2 separate regions of the Homo sapiens genome follow, and region 2 is linked to region 1. A link means that fine-mapping ties the variant in region 1 to the expression of a gene that starts in the linked region. Tissue or cell type: esophagus mucosa. Region 1 holds a variant in brackets; the other region holds the start of a gene. All regions are shown on one strand. Distances are between the middles of the regions.

What was found. PIP is the estimated chance that this variant, and not a neighbour inherited with it, causes the effect.
Region 2: F2RL1 starts here. The variant in region 1 is fine-mapped to the expression of F2RL1 in esophagus mucosa (GTEx, PIP 0.98).

The regions. Positions count from the first base shown.
Region 1 is chr5:76,843,651-76,847,889 of GRCh38, forward strand. No RefSeq gene overlaps it. Among named protein-coding and RNA genes, the nearest start is that of S100Z, 4.2 kb to the right of the region's middle. The variant G/A (reference allele first, on the strand shown) is at 2,443.
Region 2 is chr5:76,816,784-76,821,022 of GRCh38, forward strand. F2RL1 (F2R like trypsin receptor 1) reads left to right here and starts at 2,247. Exons shown (of 2, transcript NM_005242.6): 1 at 2,247-2,481. The coding sequence starts at 2,400. RefSeq lists enhancers at 1,963-2,580, 2,581-3,198 and a silencer at 1,981-2,275.

The sequences.
Region 1 (4,239 bases):
TCACTCTCGTGGCCATCCGGTTTTGGTGGGTTTTAGCCGGCTTCTTCACTGCAAACTGTTTTATCAGTAAGGTCTTTATGACCTGTATCTTTTTTTTTTTTTTTTGAGATGGAGTTTCGTTCTTTTTGCCCAGGCTGGAGTGCAGTGGCATGATTTCGGCTCACTGCAACCTCCACCTCCTGGTTCAAGCCATTCTCCTGCCTCAGCCTCCTGAGTAGCTGGAATTACAGGCATGCATCACCACACCCGGCAATTTTTTTGTATTTTTAGTAGAGACGGGGTTTTGCCATGTTGGTCAGGCTGGTCTCGAACTCCTGACCTCAGGTGATCCACCCGCCTCGGCCTCCCAGAGTGCTGGGATTACAGGTGTGAGCCACCACACCAGGCCATGACCTGTATCTTGTGCTGACCTCCTACCTCATCTTGTGACTTAGAGTGCCTGTCTGGGAATGCAGCCCAGTAGTGTTCAGCCTTATTTTACCCAGCTCCTATTCAAGGGTTGCTCTGGTTCAAATGTCTCTGACACCTAGTGGAGAGAATATAGATGAAGAAAAGAGGGCCCTGGACAGAGGCCTTCAGCATGTAGACTCTTTTGAGCAGAGGAAGGGCCAGTAAGAGACACTGAGAAGGACCAGCCACTATGGCAAGAAGAAAGTCCAGCAAATATGCTGTCAGGAAAGCCAAGGGCATAAAGGACAGAGTAATCAATCATGGTGAAAATTACTAAGAAGCCAAGTGAGATATGAACAGAGGAGTGACTACCTGAGCTTGCCCTTGGAGAATGTTGGTGACCTTGGCAAGACCACCCTCTCAGTGATGTGATGGGGAAAGGAAGCCAGAATAGTGTGTTCAAGAAAGAATTAGAAGGAAGGAAGTCCACACAATGACAGTGACAATCCCTTACAGCAATTTTAATTGTGAAAGGGAGCAGGGGAATGCGGAGGCAAGAAAGGCAATGAGAGTCATTCAGCAGAGAGGGAGACAGTGTGTCTTTGCATGTATTGTATTTCTATAAGTGAAGGTGGAAGGATCTCTTGAGCCCAGGAGTTCAAGGCCAGCCTGGGCAATGTGGCAAGACCCTATCGCACAATAACAACAACAAAAGTAGCCAGGGGAGGTGCTGTAAACATATTGTCTCAGCTACTTGGGAGGCTGAGGCAGGACGATCGCTTGAGCCCAGGAGTTAAAGGCTGTAGTGAGCTGTGATTGCACCACTGCACTCCAGCCTGGGCAACAGAGAGAGACTCTGTCCAAAAATAAAAATAAAAAAATAAGAAGTGGAACTTCTGGGTCAAAGGATACATGTAATTTTGATTGTGGTAAGTTGCCCTCCTAAGGTGTTGCACCAGTTACACACTTGCCAAAAATGTGTGTCTGTTTATCTAGAGTGTTGTAAACACCACATTTTCATGGTCTTTTATTTGCCAGTCTGAACTTCACAAATTTTGAGTGTAATGATAATGCAGGACCATAAGCATCTAGGAAGAAATAGAGCTTTGCTTTCTTCCTTTATTTACTGTTGGGAACAGGTCCCCCAAAATCTGGCCATAAACTGGCTCCAAAACTGGCCATAAACAAAATCTCTGCAGCACTGTGACATGTTCATGCTGGCCATAACGCCCACGATGGAAGGTTGTGAGTTTACTGGAATGAGTGCAAGGAACACCTGGCCCTCCCAGGGCGGAAAACTGCTTAAAGGCGTTCTTAAACCACAAACAATAGCCTGAGCGATCAGTGCCTTAAGGACATGCTCCTGCTGCAGATAACTAGCCAGACCCACCCCTTTATTTCAGCCCATCCCTTCGTGTCCCATAAGGGATACTTTTAGTTAATCCCATTTCCCATAAGGGATACTTTTAGTTAATCGAATATCTATAGAAACAATGTTAATGACTGGCTTGCTGTTAATAAATACGTGGGTAAATCTCTGTTCGGGGCTCTCAGCTCTGAAGGCTGTGAGACCCCTGATTTCCCACTTCACACCTCTATATTTCTGTGTGTGTGTCTTTAATTCCTCTAGTGCCACTGGGTTAGGGTCTCCTTGACTGAGCTGGTCTCGGCAATTTACTTTGTATTTTAGGCATATTTTCCCCCTGCTATTCCTCACCACCAAGGCAGTGACCCTCAAAAGGTACGGCCTTGCGGGAAGTTGGTCCCATTTCTCTTTGTATTAGCTCTGAGAGGAAACCTAAGCTATTCTTCTAGGTGGGCTGCAGAAAACTTCTGTGCCGTGTGGAACATCCTTTGCTCTGATGAGTTTTCTATCATTCTTTTTTGGAGAACATGAGGGCATGGCAGCAGCCACTACAGCAGGAGCCTGGAGTCCCAGCTCTGGGCCCTAGCCAGCTCACCTGCATATGAGGGATTAACTCTCAACACTGCTGGATCTGGCTCAGGTCTGAGTTCCTCACCTCAGCTCCACCATGTAGCCTGGGGTGAATG[G/A]CAAACCCATGGAAAGCGTTTAATTATAGCTTCTATGTACCATCGGGTAGACTCAATTACCTAATCCCGAGAAAGCAGTTTTAGCCAAGCCTTATGTTGTGAACTCTTTCAGAGGCCACCTGGGCTCTTGCAGGGGAACTGTGTCTAGTTCTTACCAGTGGAAGTCAGACTTTTTTCTTTAACCAGAGATTTGTGTAAATGGGAGACTTTGTTAAAAATATAACAGATTTATCAGAATTTATGGCTTAAAAAATTGCAGCACAGGGAGGGAAATGATGGTGTTTATTCTAGTGACCATTTCTGTCCATTAAAACTGAAATTCTTTTTTTTTAATCTTTTTAAAAACTGTGTTTTTTTTTTTGAGACAGAATCTCGCTCTGTTGCCCAGGCTGGAGTGCAGTGGTATGATCTTGGTTCACTGCAGCCTCTGCCTCCTGAGTTCAAGTAATTCTCCTGCCTCAGCTTCCCTAGTAGCTGGGATTACAGGTTTCCGCTACCACACCTGGCTAATTTTTGTATTTTTAGTAGAGACGGGGTTTCACCATGTTGGCCAGGCTGGTCTTGAACTCCTGACCTCAAGTGATCCACCTACCTCGCTCTCCCAAAGTGCTGGCATTAGAGGCATAGGCCACGGTGCCCAGCCTAAAAACTTTATGTTTGTTTGTTTATTTTATTTTATTTATTTATGTATTTTTCTGAGAGAGAATCTTGCTCTGTCTCCCAGGCTGGAGTGCAGTGGTGCCATCTTGGCTCACTGCAACCTCGGCCTCCTGGGTTCAAGCGATTCTCCTGCCTTATCCTCCCAAGTAGCTGGGATTACAGGCGCCCACCACCACGCCTGGCTAATTTTTGTATTTTTGGTAAAGACTGGGTTTCACCATGTTGGCCAGGCTGCTCTAGAATTCCTGACCTCAAGTGATCCGCCCACCTCGGCCTCCCAAAGTGCTGGGATTACAGGTGTGAGCCACTGCGCCCAGCCCTAAAAACTTTATTATGGAGGATTTTATACCCATACAGAATTAGGATTGTATAGGGAAACTCTATGTCTCCATCACTCAGGCCCAATATCCATCAACCTTTGGTCAATTCTGCCCCATCCTCCTCCCCATCCCGTTTATTCTGAAGCAAATCTCAGGAATCATATTATTTCACTCGTAAATGTTTCAGTGTCTAAGACAAGAAATTTAAAAATCATACCTCAAAAAATTTCTTAATATCAGATATCCTGTCAGTGTTCAAATTTCTACTCATCTCAATTATCATAAGTGGTTTCTTTTTTTAAAAAATCAGAATCTAAATAAAGCTCAGACATTGCAATTGGTTGATGACTTTTAAATCTCTTAATTTATCTCCACCCTCACCACTTGCTACTTACTTGTTGAAGAAACCAGGTTGTTTGTAGATTTTCCCCATAGTCTGGATTTTGCTGATTGCATCCAGAACTGGAAAGTGTGAAAGCATATTAGAGGAAATGAAAAGGCTCTGCCGATCGAGAACTCTGGTTATACAACTGTTCACAAGCACTTAGCAGGAACAACGAGGAATGCTAAAATTCTTATCACTGTGCCCTCTTATGTGGTGCCTGCCTCATGGTGATCTTAATGTTCTCCTAAAGATAGGGAAGAACAGGACCCTAGACCACAGTCTTGTGCTTGGGAGCTACACTTGGACAGGAATCACCACCCAAAACTGGCAATGCAGACAGATTACATGTGTTTTCTTCCGCAGATTTGTTCTGATCTCCCCAGACATCCGTCATTCTATAATCCTACAGTTTGGACCTTCTTAGTTTTCACT
Region 2 (4,239 bases), 27 kb before region 1:
TTGGAAATTGTGATGATTCAAGGCATATTCCCATAAAATACAGTGAAAATTTAAATCGAAAGCAGCTGGACCCTGATGTATTGTTCTCTGAAAGAGGAAGATTCCACCTTAAAGGCAGTCATTCTATAGCAGTTCCCATTTCTTAGGTGCTTACTATATACCAGAAACGGTACTAAGAAGTGCTTTATGGACATTTAGCAAAGTGAATCCTCACAACCACCCTACGAGAGAGGTACTAGTATCATTCCCAGATGATAGATGTAATATTAATAAGCTACAGATGAGGAAATGGATGCTTGAAAAGTTTGAAGGGACATCTTAGGAATCAGTTATCTCCCCTGGGGAGGGACCTTCAGGAATGGCCTGATCCCTATCAGGAGAGCTGTCCGCTGTTCAGGATGTCAAAGGTTCCTGTTCTGCTTCTAGAAGTCAGCTTTTCCTGGGAGGAAAAGTGGGCATGGGCTGAGGTGAGAGCTGGGGTGCAGGTGGAGTATGAAGACTCCTCAGAGAAAGGAAATAAACAAAAAATATTTATTGAGCTTCTACCATGTATCAAACCCAGTCACTAGTCACTATTTTATCCTCAGACAGACACCTATAAACCTTTAAACCACGTGTGTGTGTATATATATATATATTATAAGAAAGCTTAGAGAGGATAAGTAAACTTGGGATCACACAGATGTCAACAAGGGGAGAAGCCTGTCCGGGTGTGGTGGCTCATTCCTGTAATCCCAGCACTTTGGGAGGCTGAGTGGGGAGGATCACATGAAGCCAGGAGTTCCAGACCAGACTGGACAAGATAGGGAGACCCCACTTCTATTTTCTAATAGAAATTAAAATAAAAAATAAAGAAAATTTCTTTATACATTGAGCTGAAATTAAACCCCACTGTGGCTTCCACCAATTTTTGCTCTCTGGAGCAACTCAAAACACATCTAAATCCTCTTCTACAAGCGAATCCTTTAAATATTTGAAAATACCTATGTCTCTCTTCTGTGCTCTTCTGGTACCAATAGTTTAAATGGGTAACAGTAGACTTTGTTTTATTCAATCTTTTAAAAAGCAAATAAAAAGTAAGACATGCTGGGTGCGGTGGCTCACGCCTGTAATCGCAGCACTTTGGGAGGCGGAGGTGGGCTGATCACGAGGTCAGGAGTTCGAGACTAGCCAGACCAACATGGTGAAACCCCGCCTCTACTAAAAATACAAAAATTAGCCAGATGTGGTGCACGCCTGTAACTCCAGCTACTCGGGAGGCTGCGGCCAGAGAATTGCTTGAACCCAGGAGACAAAGTTTGCAGTGAGCCGAGATCACGCCACTGCACTCCAGCCTGGGAGACAGAGCGAGACTCCGTCTCAAAAACAAAAAGTAAGACATTACCAATATGATGCCAACCCTCATGCACTCATCCCCAACCCCACACTTCTCTTCTCCCACCCCTTCTATCTGCTTTTGTATTTATTTAGCCTATGGGATCCCAATGCAGAGGAGCCCTGGTGGACGCATTTATAGTGCAGCGATGAATAGAAGACAGTGATAGTCTTATACTGGAGTTGAAATGTGATAAACATTTATACACTGTGTTTATAAGTCGTGTAACTCTGGCCAATTTATCTGGTCTTTCTAAGCTCACTTTCCTCGTCTGTAAAATGGGAAGAATAATCATACTTATTGCGCTGGTTGTTATGGGGATTAAGCAAGATAATTCTCTAAAGCTTTGGCACTTGGCGCTGAAAGTAGCCATTCCATGTCTTCTTTCCCGCCCCGCCTCTTGTGCTCCCCACCGCTTTCGTGATGTCCGCAGTTGCCCACCTGCCTCTACAATAAAAAACGCATCCCTCCTCCTGCAGGGTCCACCGCACCGGGAAGCCCTGTCTGTATCAGTTACCAACCACAATTGCAGTGAGTACGAATCGTGGCTTTCCCACAGTCAGGAAAGGCAAGGGAGACCGACGACCCGCTTCTCTAGGAGTAAGTAAAGATTAAAGGTAGTTCGCGGTATAGCCTAGGCAGGGATTAACCCGTGGTCCCAGCGCTCCTGCTATTTGCATTCCAAAGCAGACACCTCATGCGCTCAACCCCGCCCGCAGGCGGCTCCCGCAGTCTAAGGGACCTGGCGCGAGTCCGGGAAGCGGAGGGCGCAGCTGCGCAGGGAAGGGGGCCGGGGGCGGGACCAGGGCGCGCGTTCCGGTCCCGGGGCGTGGCCTCCCGCAGGTGAGTACGCTGCTCCTTCGGTTTCCCTGAAACCTAACCCGCCCTGGGGAGGCGCGCAGCAGAGGCTCCGATTCGGGGCAGGTGAGAGGCTGACTTTCTCTCGGTGCGTCCAGTGGAGCTCTGAGTTTCGAATCGGCGGCGGCGGATTCCCCGCGCGCCCGGCGTCGGGGCTTCCAGGAGGATGCGGAGCCCCAGCGCGGCGTGGCTGCTGGGGGCCGCCATCCTGCTAGCAGCCTCTCTCTCCTGCAGTGGCACCATCCAAGGTGAGAAACCTGGCCAAGGAGGGCTCTTATCTCTGAGGAGCTGGGGTCCTGGGCACGCTGGGCAGACGGTGGGATCCGGGCAGGTGTGCGAAGGCTGTTCTGCTGCCGGCACCCATCTCTACGAATCCCTTAGCCTCCCCTTGGTGGCTTTGATGTGAGGTCTCTGCGCCAAGGAGGCACCCAGGTGGGACATGCGGGAGCAGCTGAAGTCAGCGGAGCCGGGCAGAGGCAGAGATTTCCCCAAAGACCCCACTTCCCGTAGAGGCTGTCATGCTGGGCACCTCCAGGCCCCAGCGTGGGTTCGGGGAAAGGGAGGGAAGGAAGGAGTAGCTGTGTCTAAAGGGTACGCAGAGGACCTAGTCCCCTCCCCGGGCTTGGTTGCTTTGTAAACACTAAGTCATTAAGAGCTTTTTGCCAACTCCGGAGACTTCCTCCGCTGGCCCCGCGGGGCCGGTGGGGTTAGCGAGCTGATTGCGCAGGGCAGGGCGGAGTGGGTGGGAACCCGCGGCCCGGGAGCCTTCTAGGTTGTTTTTTGCGTCCCTCTCCAACTGCTGGAAGCCTTTCTTCGGGTTCTGGCCCCTGCGTTCGAGACCCACCCGGGTCCCGCTGCTCCTGGCACCCACAGTGGAAGGCCCGGGGTATGAAAGTCAGGGCCGGTCCCTGATGGGTTCTGGTGGTAATGAGCGCTCAGGCCCGTTGGGCGCCACGAGGATTTACGAGCGGAACTTTTTGGACCCTGCCTTATATTTGACCAGTTGACCCTCTGGGCCTGGGGTTCCGGGACTTTCCTAGTGTGCCACCCGGAGCGGCCACTGGCTGCCACCCAGGTCTGCAGGCCAGAGGCTGGCTGGCCTGGGAACAGAGCAGCACTTGCGCCCGGCCGTCGCGTTCCTTGGATGTGCTGCTCCGGGTGTGCTCGAACTTGTATTGCTGGGAGTGTGTTCTTCCGGGCCCAGCAGGCCTCGCTGTGGCCGTGGGGGATGTTTGACCTGCGATCGCGCCACTGTGATCCTAACCGAGGCCCCTCTGTTTGGGGCAGCCTGGGTAGCAAAGGGAGCTTTTAATTTCCCTCAGAAATGCGCATTTCTCACTTTTATCCTCCTCTTCATAAAGACGAAGTAAAAGAGCAAGTCACAGTGGGTTGGAATTAGATGGAAGAATGTGATTCTTTTCCCTCTGCAGTTAGGGAAAAGGGTGTTAATGGTGTAAGCTTGAAAACTGTGCACCGCTGGTATATTTTTTTTTCTTAATCAGCATCAGAATAAAGGCATTTAGTTCCAGGAAGTATTGAAAACTGTAATGGACACCTCTCCTCTATGTCCTTTAAAGTTGGAAACTTAAAATTCAGGAGCAAAGGTTAGTATGTGCAAACTTTAAAAAAATACATGTTGGTATAGCTGATTCAACATCTTTATGATTCAGAGATCCCTGTAGGAAGCATGCCCCGATTATTTGTCTTGTTCTTGTTTACTACTCTTGGGGGATTGGGAGATCCCTGGATTATAAGGCGAACTTGATTTAACAATAAGGAAAAATCAGGTTACTTGTTAACTATAGCCACTTAATATTGCACCTTGTTCCTCATCCTCCCCCCACCATACTTTTATTCCCTTGCAAAGTAACTTTCCCAAAGGGTTAGTGAAGTAACACTGACAATTGATTTAGGCAGATGGAGCTTTCCTCCCACCTTAAAACTAAATTGATTTTAATAAGAAATACAGTGTTAGCAAAGCTTTTCTGCCCTCAGGGTGGGTCTTT